Regions from separate parts of the Homo sapiens genome. Here region 2 is linked to region 1. The links come from fine-mapping of genetic effects on gene expression. A gene starts in region 1. The other region holds a variant in brackets. All regions are shown on one strand. Distances are between the middles of the regions.

The links. PIP is the estimated chance that this variant, and not a neighbour inherited with it, causes the effect. A credible set is the group of variants that fine-mapping cannot tell apart.
Region 2: its variant is the best candidate, but not a certain one, in a credible set for the expression of LINC02369 in testis (GTEx, PIP 0.75).

The regions. Positions count from the first base shown.
Region 1 is chr12:128,115,005-128,120,221 of GRCh38, forward strand. It overlaps LINC02369 (long intergenic non-protein coding RNA 2369), which reads right to left and starts at 3,137. Exons shown (of 5, transcript NR_104647.1): 1 at 3,121-3,137; 2 at 2,910-3,004. It overlaps LINC02368 (long intergenic non-protein coding RNA 2368), which reads left to right and starts at 3,213. Exons shown (of 3, transcript NR_104648.1): 1 at 3,213-3,773.
Region 2 is chr12:128,084,698-128,089,914 of GRCh38, forward strand. LINC02369 (long intergenic non-protein coding RNA 2369) reads right to left here. Exons shown (of 5, transcript NR_104647.1): 4 at 3,032-3,159; 5 at 2,285-2,601. Among named protein-coding and RNA genes, the nearest start is that of LINC02369, 31 kb to the right of the region's middle. The variant C/T (reference allele first, on the strand shown) is at 2,600.

The DNA of each region.
Region 1 (5,217 bases):
GGCTGATTTTTGTAATTTTGGGTAGCGATGGGGTTTCACCATGTCGCCCAGGTTGGTCTCAAACTCCTAAGCTCAAGTGATCCACCTGCCTCGGCCTCCCAAAGTGCTGGGATTACAGGCGTGAGCCACCACACCCAGCCCATTTCTTCATATTTAAAAAAAGGAAAAGAAATTATCTTCCTACAAATGCTCCCAACCCATTCCCAAGTCAAGCTCCATGCTTCGGAAACCTTGCTGACTCATGCAAGCTCCATGCTTGGAAACCTTACTGACTTATCCAAGTTCCAACTTTTGGCCATTTGAGTCTTTTTTGAAAAATGTCTATTCAGATATTTTTCCTCCCTTAGACCATCACTCTCCTTACTCTCCGTGTGGCTACCATTAGCATCCTCTCCTAATTTACAGCTTAGCAGCTGCTGAGAACTAAAAAATCAGATAACCAAGATGGTTGGTGTCGAGTATAAATAGATCCCGAAGTCTTTGCATGAAAATATTGTGAAACACATTTTCATTTTTGGAGTCATTTTTTATTAGTAACATCCTGATAGTTGAATCTGGTAGATAAGTGACTTCCAGTTACCAGTTCAGACTGGCTCAAGGTCAAAGATAAGGGCTGGGGGGTTGGATCTGGCTTCTGGGTGCCATAGATCCAGGTGCTGAAACTATGTCATCTCTTGCTTGCCTGGGTGGGCTGCAGCAAGTTCCAGGCTGCAGCCTTCCAGCTCCGTGGCATTTAGAGAGAGCTGCCCCTTGTCAGCAGGTACAGCAAGAACCCCAGGAAGATCTCACCTATAAGCAGAAGACAAAACAAACAGGAAAAAAAAAAACCATCCTGGGAAGTGTAAACAGCTCTGGAGCCAGGAAAGGTGGGTGAGTGAACATCCTTTAGGCCCCAACACACAGACTGGGAGGGAGGGAGTCTGGATCCTCGAAGCAAATTGAGCAGCTTCTACCAGAATAGTAGAGGGGTTGCTGATTAAACAAAAAACATATATTCATAACTTCATTTAATTTTTTAATGCAGTTTCTTTTTCTTTTTCAAAAACTTTAATTTCTGGGATACATGTGCAGAACGTGCAGGTTTGTTACATAGGTATACATGTGTCATGGTGGTTTGCTGCACCTAGCAACCCGTCATCTAAGTTTTAAGCCCCGCGTACGTTAGGTATTTGTCCTAATGCTCTCTCGCCCCTTCCTCCCCACCCCTCCCTCCTGACAAGGCCTGGTGTGAACCAACCCAAATGCCCATCAATGGTAGACTGAATAAAGAAAATGTGACATATATACACCACGGAATACTATGCACCCGTAAAAAAGAATGAGTTCATGTCCTTTGCAGGGACATGGAAGAAGCTGGAAGCCATCATTCTCAGCAAACTACCGCGGGAGCAGAAAACCAAACACCACATGTTCTCACTCAGAAGTGGGAGTTGAACAATGAGAACACATGGACACAGGGAGGGGAACAACATTCTTTTCCTTTATCTTATATTTGTATGTTGAGAAGCTAAGAATGATTCTAATTTAGGCAGTTCAAGCAGTGTTTTTGAATCAATTCTACTCTACTTTATGTTGGATGTCTCCACAATGGAAGATATTAGAGGAATATTGGAGAATAGGGTGATGAGGCAATAGGGGTTGCTATGAGCCATTGAAGACAGGCTAGGGCATGACCCTTTTTGTTCCTGAAATCACTCTGGGTGCTATAGCAACTCATCCCCTGATGGAGACATTATCTGCACAATCTCACTGCATCTGCCTCGTCTCATCTCCGAAGACCACAGCGGCTGAGAGCAGAAAGATCACCAGCAGGTCACCCCTCATTCCACGCTGAAGTCCCCTCCAGCACAACCACACCGCCTGGTCATCCAGCCCATGACCTCTCAGAGGATGCACAAAGGGAGGGCCCAATAACTTTTATTTACTTATTTTTATTTATTATTATTATTATTTGAGACAGAGTTTTATTCTTGTTGCCCAGGCTGGAGTGCAATGACATGATTTCAGCTCTGCAAACTTCGCATCCTGGCTTCAAATTATCTCCTGCCTCAGCCTCCCGAGTAGCTGGGATTACAGGTGCCCACCACCACACCTGGCTAATGTTTTGTATTTTTTTTTAGTAGAGACAGGGTTTTACCATGTTGGCCAGTCTGGTCTCAAACTCCTGACCTCAGATGATCCACCTGCCTCAGCCTCCCAAAGTGCTGGGATTGCAGGCGTGAGGCACTGCACTCAGCCCCCAATAACTTTTTAAGGCTCTAAGAAAATGTCTTTTTTAAAATTAATTAATTAATTTATTTATTTATTTTTGAGATGGAGTCTTGCTCTGTCACCCAGGCTGGAGTGCAGTAGTGAGAACTCGGCTCACTGCAAGCTCTGCCTCCCGGGTTCACGCCATTCTCCTGCCTCAGCTTCTCGAGTAACTGGGACTACAGGAGCCCGCCACCATGCCTGGCTACTTTTTTTTGTATTTTTAATAGAGACGGGGTTTCACCACATTAGCCACGATGGTCTCGATCCCCTGACCTCGTGATCCGCCCACCTCGGCCTCCCAAAGTGCTGGGATTACAGGCGTGAGCCACTGCGCCCGGCCGAAAACTTCTTTTTTTTAATGAAGGAATTACAAAACGGGCTTTGAAGTAATGTAGAATACACTTATATATTTACAAGTTGACATGGGGACACACTCCCACAGAGTGCACAGTGACGTGAGTGTAGTAACTTAATGTGGTAAGATTACATGACCCCTGCACGTGATGAAGTCTGGCCATGAGCCCTGTGGGAGGAAATTTTGATAAATGTCTTCCTTCAATCATTTCACTGTCTGCGTCCTGGTTCTGAACTTCAAAAGTTGCATGTGAAGTCTCTTGCGAATATGAGACTCGGGCCACATAGCCGATCGCACTCACCCATCATCCAAGATGTCTGCCTGGGCTCTGATCTGCTCTGTTCTTGCTTTCCTCCAGGGACGGGTGGCTCAGTACCTCACAGAAGCAAGTCCTGCCTTTGGAAAGGAAGTTCTTTACTATTTTGATATGAAATATGCCTGCTTAGTTCTCAGAGCAAGAGTGTCAAGAGTACACAGCCCAAGAGGCCCGGTGGAAGCTGCAGCCTTCTTACCTTCTTATGTTGGAGATGGGAAGCCCCAGAATGTCCCTTCCACAGCGTTCTGTGGTCGGCAAGTCACCAAGCCAGCCTGGATTCCAGGAAGCAGAAAGGGAGTTCCCTTCCGCCTCCCTAATGCCATGGAATGGGGAAGGGTACAACTCTAGGATCAGACCCAAAGGGAACTGTTGTGAATCTTGATTTTGTGACTTCTTGGCTATTGGATTTGGGCCAATTATTTGTCATCTCTGTACCTTAATTTACTCATCTATGAAAGAAGGACTAAAAATACTTATCATAGGAGAAGACAATATGTAAGCCACTTGGCAATGTGCCTGGGACCTAGTGAGCGATTCTTCTCACTTATTATTGTTTTCGTCATCATCGACATCATCGTCACCATTACTTTTCATTGTCTTTGGAAATTTGGACAGAGACCACAGGCAGATGCGGTGCCGTATTCCCACAGGGCTGGAGCAGCGGGTGTGTTTTTCTGTGATAGCAGCGCTTCCCGGAACCAGCAGGGTACACGTTATTTGACCTGAAGGGCGAGGGAGTTCAGAGCCTACAGTGATGAGAGAAAGCCCTGAGTGAACGTTTCCTTTCAGCTTCGTGAGAGGAAGAGTCTAAATAGGGGAGCCATCCCCAAAACCTGACCACGAGCAAGGGTGCAAAATAGGGTGCAGTCTCTTCACATATCTAGACAGGAGTATGAACCTCCTTGGGAGCGTGCAGGCTGGCAATACCCGTGTGTGCATGTACGCGTGTGATTCCTGTGTGTGCGAGCTTCTGTTTATGTGTGTGAGTGTGTGCATGTGTTAGTATGTGTAAATGTGTGGTTTATGTGTGGTGGAGTGAGCACATGAGCATGTAAAAGTGTGTGTGCATGAACAGAAGTATGTATGTGTACTGCATATGTATGTGTGAGTCTGTGTGGCATATGTGTATGTGGAGATGTGTTTGTAGTGTGTATCCGTGTGTGTACCTGCAAGTATGTTTGTGTTTATGTGTGAGTGGTACGTAGTATCTATACACAGGTGTGTACATTGTGTGAGTCGTGTGCATGTGTGTGATGACTCTGTGTTTGCGAGTGTGTGTGCTGCATGTACCAGAATGTGTGTATCTGTGTATGTGAGGGTTTATGGGTGAGTGCAATGTGTCTGTATGTGGGCATGTATATCATGTGAGTTATGAATATGGGTGCAATGTATGTGTGTATCTTTATGAGTGTGTTGTGCTTGTATCTATACATGTGTGTGCACGTGTGCATGCATACATTTGTGTGTGTGCATACATTTATGGGTGTGATGTGTGTGTCTGTCTGTGGGTGTGTATGTTGTGTGAGTTGTGTGTATATGTGTGATGAATGCATGTGTATGTGCATGCATGCATCTGTGTCTACTCGTACTTTATGGGTAAGAGGTGTGTGTGTGTGTGTACATTGTGTGAGTCGTGTGTACATTGTGTGAGTCGTGTGTACATGTGTGATGAATGCATGTGTATGTTTGTGCATGTGTGGTGCATGCATCTGTACATGTGTGAATCTGTGTGTATGCATATATTTATGGGTAAGATGTGTGTCTCTGTATGTGGGTGTGTACATTGTGTGAGTCGTGTGTACATGTGTGATGAATGCATGCGTATGTGAGTGTGTGGTGCACATATCTGTGCATATGTACATCTGTGTGTACACATATATTTATGGGTGAGAGGTGTGTGTCTTCATGTGGGTGTGTATGTCATGTGAGTCGTGTGTACATGTGTGATGAATACATATGTATGTGAGTGTATGTATAGTGCATGTATCTGTGCATGTGTGAATCTGTGTGTATGCATATATTTATGGGTGAGACGTGTGTCTCTGTATGTGGGTGTGTACATTGTGTGAGTCGTGTGTACATTGTGTGAGTCGTGTGTACATGTGTGATGAATGCATGTGTATGTGAGTGTGTGGTGCACATATCTGTGCATATGTACATCTGTGTGTACACATATGTTTATGGGTGAGAGGTGTGTGTCTTCATGTGGGTGTGTATGTCATGTGAGTCATGTGTACATGTGTGATGAATGCATGTGTATGTGAGTGTATGTATAGTGCATGTGTCTGTACAT
Region 2 (5,217 bases), 30 kb before region 1:
TAATATATAATATATAATATGTTGTTATATAATATATAATATATATTGTTATATAATATATGATATATATTGTTATATAATATATATGATATATATTGTCATATAATATATAATATATGATATATATTGTCATATAATATATAATATATGATATATATTGTTATATAATATATAATATATGATATATATTGTTATATAATATATAATATATAATATTATATGTAGTATAATATATATAATATTTTATATAATATATAACGATATATTATATAATATACTATATATTATATAATATATAGTTATATATTATATAAATATATATAAATAATTATATATATAAATATATATAAATATATATAAATATATAAATATATAAATATATATAAATATATACATATATAAATATATATAAATATATATAAATATATACATATATAAATATATATAAATATATATAAACATATACATATATATAAATATGTATAAATATATATAAATATATATAAATATATATAAATATATATAAATATATATAAATATATAAATATATATAAATATATATAAATATATATAAATATATAAATATATATAAATATATATAAATATATAAATATATAAATATATATAAATATATAAATATATATAAATATATATAAATATATAAATATATAAATATATAAATATATTTAAATATATAAATATATAAAAATATATATATAAATACATATAAATACATATATAAATATATATGTAAATATATATAAATACATATATAAATATATATATGAATATATAAATACATATATAAATATATATATGAATATATATAAATACATATATAAATATATATATGAATATATATAAATACATATATAAATATATATAAATACATATATATATAAATATATATAAATACATATATAAATATATATATATATATTTTTTTTTTTTTTTGAGACAGAGTTTTGCACTCTTGCCCAGGCTGGAGTGCAGTGGCGTGATCTCGGCTCACTGCAAGCTCCGCCTCCCGGGTTCACACCATTCTCCTGCCTCAGCCTCCCCAGTAGCTGGGACTACAGGTGCCCGCGACCACGCCCAGCTAGTTTTTTGTATTTTTAGTAGAGACGGGGTTTCACCGTGTTAGCCAGGATGGTCTCGATCTCCTGACCTCATGATCCACCCTCCTCGGCCTCCCAAAGTGCCGGGATTACAGGCGTGAGACACCACGCCTGGCCTAACCTTCTATATTAACCCTAAAGCAACTACGTTTAAAAAATAACAGGTACCTAAATTGGAACACCAATTTCTCTAATCACAGATCAGGTACATAACTTTATGGGAAACATTTCCTTCAAAGCATGACAAGGAAGGCTCGTCTGATCCTGTATTTTATTTGTGAATTTATTTCTTGAGTTAACATGAATCTATGTCAAAGTAAAACTTATATCTGAAAGAATCCAAATCATGAGCAGCTTTCTTTTTATAGTTTTTCCCTTAAGAATAAAAAAGTTGGGCAAAATGCATTTCCAACGACAATCTGCAAACAAGATGACAAGAGTCTGGGTGAATACATTTTTAAACGACTGCCTGGATCAACTGGAATTGTCATTGGTTTCTTTATTTACTGTTATTTCACCATCATCTTTAATAATCTTGTTCAATAATATTTTATAAATAAATATGTAAATGAATCAAGAAGTAAATAGAAAATGTGTCTAGGAGATACTTCATTGGGAAACAAAGCTGATTAAAAGCATTAAGTGTTCATGAATCCATTTTTGTAAGATACCTGAGTGCACCTGTGTGTAGATGATTTGATCAGAAAGAATTGTTTTGCCATGTTAACAAACAAACTCAAAGTTTTAGAGTCAAAAGTGGAAATAAATATCCCTTTTTTACATAGCCAGAGAGACGCAATTCATCACGTTCATATTAATTGTCTTTATCCAAAGCCAGGGCTGGGGAGAATCAGGGGCAGGCAGGAGATTGCATTTTTGTGACAAGCAGGAAGTTACTTCTGGCAGCCATGCACCTAGGTCAGTGCCGTCAGATACAAGGACATAAGCTGACAGCTGTGAATGAATGTTCAGATCCCAAAAAGATGACTGCAACCCCTCCAAGACGCATTCCTAGAGTATTAAAAAAAGAGGCTCACTTGGCCTTTAAAAAGGTTGGCACTCATCTCCAATAGGTAGGAAAATGATTTACAAATACTAGTTTTCTAAAAGAAATCCTGCAAGGGGCAGCGGCGGGGCGGGGGGTGGGGAAATGGGTAGGCATTCTGTTTCCCTCTGGCCACCAAAGAAAGTTTATTTTATTATTATTTCATTGGCATTTATCCTCACAGTGTTTATGTTCTTCCAGGCGTCGTGTCAGTGGAAAGCGATTCATTGATGATGAAGACATTCTGGGAGAATTTAGCGTAGGCCAGTTGGAATTAGCAGACCTCAGTCAACCAGGATCCCCTGTTGGGCAAATTCTGAGCAGGTCCAGCAGGTTGGGGCTCACCCGGTGAGGAAGACTTCCTGGGTGAGGAAGACTCCTCGACGACTCCTTCCAACACTCCCTCTGAAAAGCCTTCCTGACGGGAGCCTGGCTG[C/T]CCTAGGAATAAACAAGGGAAGGGAAGGCATTTGAACCCTTTTCCTGGGGTCCTTTAGAACCAGTTCCCCTCAGTCCCGCTCATCATATTCTCCCAATTCTTTTCACCATTCTATTTTACTGTCACCTCCAACAGAATAAATCCTTTTCCATTTTTTTGAGGCAGGAATTGTGACTCTTAATAAATATTTTTTTCTTGTGTTCTGACGATTCACTATTCCTTCCCCAAATTTTAAAAATCAAAGAAACTCCTTTCTCTCTGGTGCAACATTCCTGCCCTGAGTCATAACACAGCATATGGCCAGCTCCTGGGATGAAAAAGGGTCCAGGTGAGATGGGATGAAGGGGTGCAGATGAGAAACCAAACACCTTGCATAGCACACCAGGCTCACTCACGGCCTGGCAACAGCTCAGAGTGGAGGCAGGGCCTTACCAGTGGTGGGCAAATCCCCACTCAGGCTCCTTGGTTCCTGTCTCCTTTCTTCCCTCCCAGAATCATGTAAAATGCTGACTTCTAGGAGAAAGAAAAAGCAAGCCTCATCTTCCATCCTAAAGCAGCTCCTTAAAAACAAAGAAAACACGAGTTATTTCAGCCACCTCCAGTATTTATCATCAAGTGATTTTGTATAATTCTCTCCACTTCGCAAAATCTTCATGCTCTGGAAAGGGCTGCTGGGGATAGAATCTCAGGTCAAGGTGGGGGCGGGGGCACTGAGCAAATGACCCTGACGCCTTCTTTGGATCTGCTGTTCTATGATTTTAGTAAATTGGAGTGAGGGTCCTCCGCCTCCCACTCACAACTCCTGCTCAGTTTCTTGGTTGCTTATTGGTTTTAGTTAAAATTCTTCCCCAGTCCATCTGATGTGGTTAGGCTTTGTGTCCCCACCCAAATCTCATCTTGAATTGTAATCCCCAGGTTTTGTGGGAGAGACCTGGTGGGAGATGATATGATCATGGGAGCGGTTTCCCCCATGGTGTTCTTGTGATAGTGAGTGAGTTCTCACAAGATCTGATGGTTTTATACGTGTTTGACAGTTCCTCCTTCATGTATTTACTCTCTCTCTCTCTCTCTCCTGCTGCCATGTAAGATGTGCCTGCTTCCTCTTCTTCCATGATTGTAAGTTTCCTGTGGCCTCCCCAGCCATGCAGAACTGTAAGTCCATTAAACCTCCTTTGTTTATAAATTACCCAATCTTGGATAGTATCTTTATAGCAGTGGAAGAACAGACTAATACACCATCCAATGGAGCAATGTTACACTCAACCAAACATAAATTAAGTATTTACAGCTCAATTGGAGAGAGAACTTAGAACAAGAAATACTTAATTTCATTAATGCTCAGTCCTCTGCCCTGGGGAGTGGGATGAGACATCTACATTTGGCTGCAGTTTCTGGGGCCTCTCCTGCTGGTAGCATCTCTCTCTGTATTGTGTTATTCTAATATTTAAAGATTTGTATTTTTCATAGAGCATGTGCCCTAAACCTGTGCCTACAACATTAGCAGCTGTGCATCTTCCTGAGAAGGATAACTCCTCTGCTGTGTTGATTCAGTTTTATTCAGTTATTTTGACCATCTCAGTTTCTCCCTCTGTGTTGTTTGTAGAATCCAAGCCCAACATCCACTGTGACTCTAGTGATGCTTCCTCTTCATCCAAGATTCTCTGTCCATTGACCCCACCAGGAATGAAGTGTCCCTGAGGTCACTGTGAGATACATCAGAGTCACTTGTGTTACTTTCTTTCCCATTCCTGCAGATGCTGCATTTGCTTCTAAAGTGGAAACCCAGCCAGGGCAATGTTGAAGGCAGGCAGCTGCCAATGGTGGGATGCCAGGCATCTGAGCATAAACCTGAGCCCAGAAGGATGGGGATGGCCTGCCAGGACAATCAACTGCAGAAGACAGGGCTTCCTGGTCAGTCAAACAGTGGCAACTCTTCCTCCTTTTCCCAAAGCTCTTGGAAAGCCATAAACTCCCTGGGGAAGTAGTTTTGAATGTTCATTAAACTGGGAGGGGTTTACATTAAAAAACAATTTAAGGAATCTCGTCTAAAACCCAAAAGTCCTCTGAAGAGTCTTCTGCGGGCTCATCAAAAACCACACAATTGGCCAGGCACAGGCCTCTCATCCCAGCATTCTGGGAGGTCAAGGCAGGTGGATAGTTTGAGGCCAGGAGTTCAAGACCAGCCTGGAGAACAAGGTGAAATCCAGTCTCTACAACAAAATACAAAAATTAGCTGAGTGTGGTGGCTCACAAGTAGTCCCAGCTACTCAGGAGGCTGAAGTGGGAGGATCGTTTGAGCCAGGAGTTCAAGGCTGCAGTGAGCTGTGATTGCACCACTGCACTTTAGCCTGGGCAACAGACCAAGAACCTGTGGAAAAAAAGAAAAAAAGAAGCTACACAATCAGCATAATATAAATGTTGGAGTCACGTGGAATGGCTGTGCTCCTCAGGCCTTTGCCTTGGGTGCCAGAAGCTGAGGGGATGGAGGTTCCGTGTGAATGTGGGCATGGTGGAGGGAGGGCTGAATCCACACTGGAGTGGGGAACCTGGGTATGGGGGGCTCTAGATGAGGGGATGGTGAAGGTGGTGGCCAACACTTGTTGTGTCAACTGCAGTCA